Homo sapiens: one gene and its partner. The protein of the gene in region 1 purifies or fractionates together with the protein of each later gene. This does not show direct contact. Each region holds a gene or a part of one and is shown in the gene's direction. Other genes may lie near its edges.

Region 1 (3,656 bases):
GATCTCTGATGTTAGCATTCTGTGGAATTGCCTGTGTTCAACAGGAGAACACAAAGACCTAGCTGTGAGTGCCAGGCCAGCTTTTTGGCTGCTGTTCTTTCTCAGGGTTGAGTGAAAAGAGTATTTTTTACTAACTTTAATAAAACTCTTAATTATGACCAAGAGAGAACCACTGAGATAGATAATCTATAAGGTCCCTTCCAACACTGATTCTATATACATTTTTATCATAGTCTTTGGAGGAAGCTTAGAATTTGTTTTTGATTGTATCTATTCAAAATAGCAAATGTTTTACAAGCACATGGTTTAATCTTTAGCAGAACAGTTTGCTTATGCACCAGCTTATGGCCCAGACTACTTCAGTGTTTTCCTTATCTTAGGCATTATACTCAATAAAGTGATGATCCCTCACGACTCCTTCCCCACGCAGATGACCCTGTAAGGCTAGTCTGTTTTTATTGGGTATTGTTCCACTAAGTTAAATCCAATTTGGAAAAAAAAAATTTTCTGTGGACTTTATTAGATGGCTTTTATAGGATACTATTCTTGACTTACATAGACTGAATAATTGACCAGGGTCACACACCTAATAATTGGTGGAGTAGTGCAATTTTGAACTCAGGTAGTACTTCCAGAGTCCATATGTTGAGCGAGAAGCTTGTAGAGGACAGAACCTGGAGGAGTGAGTGTTCTGTGCAGAAAGCACCACAGCCTTATGTGCTATGATAGCCACTGTACTTCGATGGTATTATTTTTGTCTATTTATTGTACTTATAAACTTACATTATTTATCTATGTCTGTCTTCACTGTAAGAATGAGCTGCATAATGATGTGAACTATAATATCAGTACAATGTTGGGGTAAGCAAATTCTTCAGTTGGAGTGTATGCCATGTTTGGATTCACCTGTAAATTGTTAGTAAATGTGTTTCCTATGTGTATGTATAAGCAAGTTTGAATCTGCCTGTTTCCTTTTTTGAAGGTCGGCTTTCTCTCTTTGGGGTTTTCTAGGTGGAAAGTTACCGAGGCTGGACAGTGTAGTGAGACTGCAGTTTAAAGACCACATTGTCCTCACAGTACTGCCGGATCAAGATCAATCTGTGAGTATCCAAGAGGAGGAGATTTCCTGTCTTCTCAGGGTGTTTTTCATCAGAGGCCTCAGGTTATTAGATTAACCACTGGTCTCTGCCCTTCTTTAGGAATCCACCTGCATTCAGTTTAATGCCATTTCTTCAGGTCAGATGATGACCAAATCTCACAGTTCCAATTCCATATTTTCTTGCCCTCATCCTCACAGAACCTTCCTTCATCCCCTTTATGTGGTGATTAATGTCTGGTCTTTGCTTCTCATCCTACTTCGGGCCTTACTGTTCTTGCTTGGACAGCCACAGACCTCATTCCTGAGTTTCTCAGCCCCAGTCCTCCACACTGTGCAGATCTATATTTCTATGTGGTTTTGTGGATATTGTTGCATCTCCTTAAACTCTATCCTGTAGATTATGGAGAACAAAGTATATATTCTGTAATTTTGCTTCCTAGCCCAGTGATTCCCCAAACTGGCTAACTGATCATGGAGTCAATTGGAAAGCTTTTTAAAATTATAAATTCCTGGGTTTCATCTGGTCTTGGAGCCTTTGGATTTATGTTTTGATAGAGCTCCCTGTACAGTCCTAAAGACCTTGGAACGATCTCATACCATATGGCTCCACCTCATTCCTCCTAATCAGCTCTCTAAGGAGCTATCCCATGAATGATCAAGGGGGATGAGAGGGGCACTCAACATGTCTCGATAACCAGATTGTTCCAGCCGTCAGGGCCAGAGTTGGAATATATATATGAATATACATGAATAGATATATATATATATATATATACATCCTCAAAAGTACACATTCCTACATCCCTGTCTAAAAAAAAAATAGTGATTCTGATAACCAGTCAGTTTGAGACATTGTACGCTAGGCTAAGATTTTTTTGCCCTTATCTAAGAGGTGACAAAGAATGACTAAAGGCTCTGGAAGAGACAATAAACTGCACTGTGTAACATGGGGAGTGAAGGGAGATAGGGACCATTTGGGAGGGTAGTGTAATTGAAATGGAGTTTTTTATCGATCACACAGCTGGTATTTCTCAGGAGTTAATGACTTCATGATTATAAATTGTCAGTTTATACCTAGAAATGTCAGATTTTTTTATTCAAAAAAGATAGTGCAGGTATGATTAAAAAAACTGAGGATTTCATTGATAAGTTGATACATAAATCACTGCTTTTTCATTAAATCCTGAAGATGCTCTTCCAGGTAGCACTCCAGCTGTTTTAACAACTTAGAATGCCCATTAATTGCCACATACAAATAGTAACCTGTGGTGACTAATGAAGTATAGACATTGTGTGGATGCACACACCCGTCACTTTTTGCCAAAAGGATTCTTTACAGTATTCAATAAATTTCACTTGAGCACCAAGGCTTTTGAAATTTTTTTTGGTGTTGACCTATTGGAAAACCTTCCTAGTACTGACACCTTCAGTGTTGTGTTGTTGATGGCCTAATGCATTTATTTTTTCCCCAAAGGATGAAGCTCAAGAAAAGATGGTGTACATCTATCATTCCTTAAAGAATAGTAGAGAGACACACATGATGGGAAATGAGGAGGAAACAGAGGTTTGTTTCAACTGAAAACAAATGCCTATCCTGTGACTTGGGTGGTGGTTGGGAAGAATTGATTATTTTTGATTTACAGGTAATATGCTTTTTATGGCTGCACTGTGGACTTAACCATTTTGCACTACTCACAGAGCTCCTGCATGGGGATGATTAAGTCAGACATTTCTGTGATACATGCACACCAGTTTTAAGACATACTAGCTGGGACCTGTAGCCTTATAGGAATGGTATAATGTAAAACATTTCAAATTACTAATATCACTTACTACATAAATTAGGATGCCTTTTATATAGAAGTTGGCATCTTTTATGTTATCTAATTGTAGTGTGTCTAAAATACTCATGAGGGGTATCAAAAATAATGATGTATGGAGAATAAATTTACAGGAAAATGCTACTTCAATGACATAAGTAGTATACATATATTTTGACAAATAAATTTATCCTTTCAGTTTCATGGACTTCGCTTCCCTTTGTCACATTTGGATGCACTGAAGCAAATTTGGAATAGTCCAGCTATTTCTGTCAAGGACCTGAAACTTACTACAGATGAGGAAAAGGAAAGCCTGGTATTATCCCTCTGGACAGAATGTTTAATTCAAGTAGTCTAGTGCCTTTGCAGAATCAAATGCCTACTATTTTATATGCATATATTAAAAGAAAAGCAAAGACCTGAGCCGAGGAGAGGATGAATTCAAGTTTCCTTACCTGCGTATCTACTAACAAACATGAGACCTCCCTGTTACAGGTGGTCAGTTGGCCAAATGTACTAACGGGCACATGAAAGAAAGAACAGCAAATTACCAAGTGTCTCAGAAAATGACAAAACCATATTTTGACAAGTTTATTTAATCCAGTGTGGTAGAAAAGGCACAATTCCAATGTATCATTTAGAATTGAATGTCATTAACCTGGCTTTGTTCTTTGGAAGAAACAACTTCTTTAAAGAGCTTCTTTGGCTCTAGAAAAATTTCAAACAATTAAAATAAG
Region 2 (3,656 bases), on another chromosome or scaffold:
TCTTGATTTCTGATACCATTGATTGGTTTTGTCTGTATTTGAACTGTATGTAGTCATATAGTATATGCTAGTAGTTGCTTTCTTTCCTCAATGTTATTTGTGAGGTTCATCCATGTTTTTGCAAGAGGTTTTATACCAGTTATTTTCATTATTGTGTAGTATTTCATTGTATAACTATAATTAGCTTACCCATTCTTTTGTTGATAAGAATTTAATTGTTTCTGATTTTTGACTCTTAGAACTATTACTAATAATACTTTTTCAAATGTTCTAAGGTGAACATGTGTCTTAGATGTATTCCCCAGGAATTTTGATGGGTTGGTGTATTTTAGCAGTTTGGTTTTTTTCCCTCCAAAATGGTTAATACCAGCTTGCACTCTCACAGTATATAAAAGTTTAGTTGCTCTGCATTCTTGACAATACTTAATTCTTCTTGTAGCTATTTTTGCTGAGTTGGTTTTAATCTGCATTTCCCGGGTATCCCTGATGACTAATGAAGTAGAACATCTTTCCTGCTTTATAGAAAGTTTTTGACTTTATTTATTGACTGTTTGGATAATCTCATTTGTCAAGTACCTATTCAAGGGTTCATTCTTTTTCTTTTGGGTTTCAGTCTTCTCCTTGTTTTGTAGGAGTTCTTTACGTATTAGAAGTATAAGTCCTTTGTTTGATATGTTTTGCAAATACTTTTTCCTAGTCTCTTAAAGACATTTTTTGATGAATAAAAGGTTTTAATCTTCCAGTTTATCAAATATAGTCCAGTCTGTCAAACCTTTTTTTTTTTTTAGTACTTCTTGTGTTTTGTATAAGAAATCATTGCTTAGTTTGAGGTTTTGAAAGTGTCTTCCTGTATTTTTTCCTAAAACCCTCCTTGTTTCACCTTTTACATTTAGATCTACAACCCATCTGGAATTGGTTTTTGTGTATGGTGTGTTGAGATTCATTTCTTTTCCTGTATGAGTATATAGTTGATCTAGCAGTATTTATTGAAAAGACCATCCTTTTCCCACTGCAATGCTACATCAAGTTTTTCAGACATCAGAGTACTGTATGTGAGATGGGTCTGTTTCTAGACTCTTCTTTCAAAGGAAAACTGATTTGATCATTTTGCTTATTCTTGTACAAGTACTATATTCTCTTAATAAAGGTTTATGATAGTTCTTAAGATCTGATAATATAATTTTTTCAGATTAGAACCTCAAAACGACTTGGGCTGTCCTTGGCATTTCTCTATAATTTTTAGAATGGAAATTTGTTAATTTCTACAAGAAAACCTGCTGAGATCTTACATCAGTTGTAAAGATCAAATTGAGTAAAATTGGTATCTTGGCAATATTGAGTTTCAAATTCATAAGCAGAGTAAATTCCTCCATTTATTTAGGTTTTCTTTAATTTCTCTCAGTGAGAACAAAGCTAGAAGACTTAACACTATTAGTTATGAAGACTAAATGTAACATCTGGGCTCATTAAGACAGTATAGTATTGATACAAGTATATGTAAATAACTTACTCAAATAGACCAGAGAATCAGGCCTAGGGTTATGGTTCATGCCTGTAATGTCTGCACTTTGGGAGGCCCAAGGCAGGAGGATCACTTGAACCCAGGAGTTTGAGACCAGCCTGGGCAATATAGTGAGACCCTGCTTCTCAAAAAAAAAAAAAATGTAGCTTGGTAGCTGGGTGTGGTGGCATGCACCTGTAGTTGCAGCTACTTGGAAGGCTGAGGTGGGAGGATTGCTTGAGCCTGGAAGATTGGGACTGCAGTGAGCCATGATCATGCCACTGTACTCTGGCCTGGGTTATAGAATGAGACCTTGTCTCCAAAAAAAAAAAAAAAAAAAAAAAAGACCGGCTTGGTGGCTCACGCCTGTAATCCCAGCACTTTGGGAGGGGCCAAGGCAGGTGGATCACCTAAGGTCAGGAGTTCGAGACCAGCCTGGCCAACCCAGTGAAACCATGTCTCTACTAAAAATACAAAAATTAGCTGGGCGTGGTGGTGGGCGCCTGGAGTACCACTCTGGCCGACAGAGTGAGACTCTGTCTAAAGCAAAAAACAAAACAAAACAAAAAAAACAGAGAGTCAAAAGCCAGCAGTATCAGTGTTTGTTCTATTTTATGTTTAATTGACGAGTGCTTTAGAATTACAATCTTTAGTGTTATTTTACTTAATTTTCCTTTTCTAACAGGTGTGGGCCATGTTTGAGGATTGCCCCAGCATTCAGTTCTATGAGTAATAAATATCCACAGGCTGTTTTCTTGGAAGTCGATGTACATCAGTGTCAGGTAAGGGAAAGGAATCTTTTTTCTTTTTAATTTACTTTTGAATAAATTTGAAATCCAACATTAATATTCTTCATTTATCTCTTGATGCACATAGTACTTATTCCTTTGAAGATAGGAAGATGTTATGTTGATGTCATTATTACAGATGTCATTATGGCTGCATTAGTTAAGAAGAGTAGCACATTATTAATTGCTTCAGGTTTGTATTAATCACCTTCTGATATAAAATTAATACGATGTTGTTAATAGGTCACCTAGCAGTTCTGTGTATTACATTTCCTTATGTTTTGCAAACCTAGAATTATATCTTCTACCCCCGAGGTATTGGCATTATATAGCAGTGGCAAGGAGTTCTTGGTTGTAGTTTGAATTGATCAGTTTGTTATCTTATCTCCAAATGGACACACTGAGCAGAAACTTTAAAATGGTGATTATTGTTGATTGAGCCACAGTGTTGTAGGTGAATTGCCCTGATTATTTAGTTGGAATGGTATGTGGCAGTTCTGTATTTGTATATGCAGAAATGTGGGGAATTGTTAAGGGAAAAAAAAATTGGAAAGCTCCTTCCAATACTAAAAAGTAGAGTCTTTAGTTCTAACTAAGGAACAACTCTATAGCTCTGCAGCTTTATCTTTGTTAAATTTCTGAGTGTGGAAAAAATTTTAGAATATTATGTAGTGTGTAGTTACTTTGGGGGTTTGTTGAAAACCCTACATTACACACATTTATGTTTCAGCACTTAGTTGCATGTTATTGCACTATATCATTGGCCCCTGATTTAATCACTATTTCTAGAATGAAAATGCTTTTCTCCTGGAGCTGTTCTGTCAGGTATTGTAACCACTGGCTATGTGTGGTTACTGAGCACTTTAACTGTGACAAATTCATATTGATATGTACGGAAAGTATAAAATACAGATCAGATTTTAAAGACAGTATAAAAAATGTAAAATATTGCATTATCTTTTTATGTTGATTAGATTGAAAATGGATATATTAGATTTCCTGTAATATTAAACTTGATTTTACTTATTTTGCTTTTTTAATATAGATAATAGAAAATTTACAATTGCATGTGTAGCTCACATGTGCTACATATCCATTGTTTTGGGCAGCACTTTCCTGAAAGGTCATAGTTTTTTCACCTAGAGGCTTTGAGAAGACATTCCTGTGTTATCTTTATGTTCTTTTTCTTTAAAAAGTATAGTAGTGACTTTCATAATATTTGAATATATAAGGTGCCATATTTGCTTTACTGTTTCCTTTATACTTGTCATGAAAAGCTTAAACTAGGATACTCGGTGGTTATTAGGTAATTTCCATTCAGTAGTTAGTCTTATACAATTGTGGAGCTAGGACAGAATTTATAAAGA

The links.
Region 2: the proteins of RIOX2 (region 1) and TXNL1 fractionate together in Homo sapiens (co-fractionation; one large-scale study listed by BioGRID). This does not show direct contact.

What each region holds. Positions count from the first base shown.
Region 1 is NC_000003.12:97,944,805-97,948,460, reverse strand, and holds part of RIOX2 (ribosomal oxygenase 2), read left to right. Parts: intron 1-1,011; coding exon 1,012-1,100; intron 1,101-2,573; coding exon 2,574-2,663; intron 2,664-3,118; coding exon 3,119-3,277; 3' UTR 3,278-3,656. UniProt on the Homo sapiens protein: Oxygenase that can act as both a histone lysine demethylase and a ribosomal histidine hydroxylase. Is involved in the demethylation of trimethylated 'Lys-9' on histone H3 (H3K9me3), leading to an increase in ribosomal RNA expression.
Region 2 is NC_000018.10:56,624,988-56,628,643, reverse strand, and holds part of TXNL1 (thioredoxin-like protein 1), read left to right. Parts: intron 1-2,186; coding exon 2,187-2,283; intron 2,284-2,377; exon of another isoform or gene 2,378-2,482; intron 2,483-3,656. UniProt on the Homo sapiens protein: Active thioredoxin with a redox potential of about -250 mV.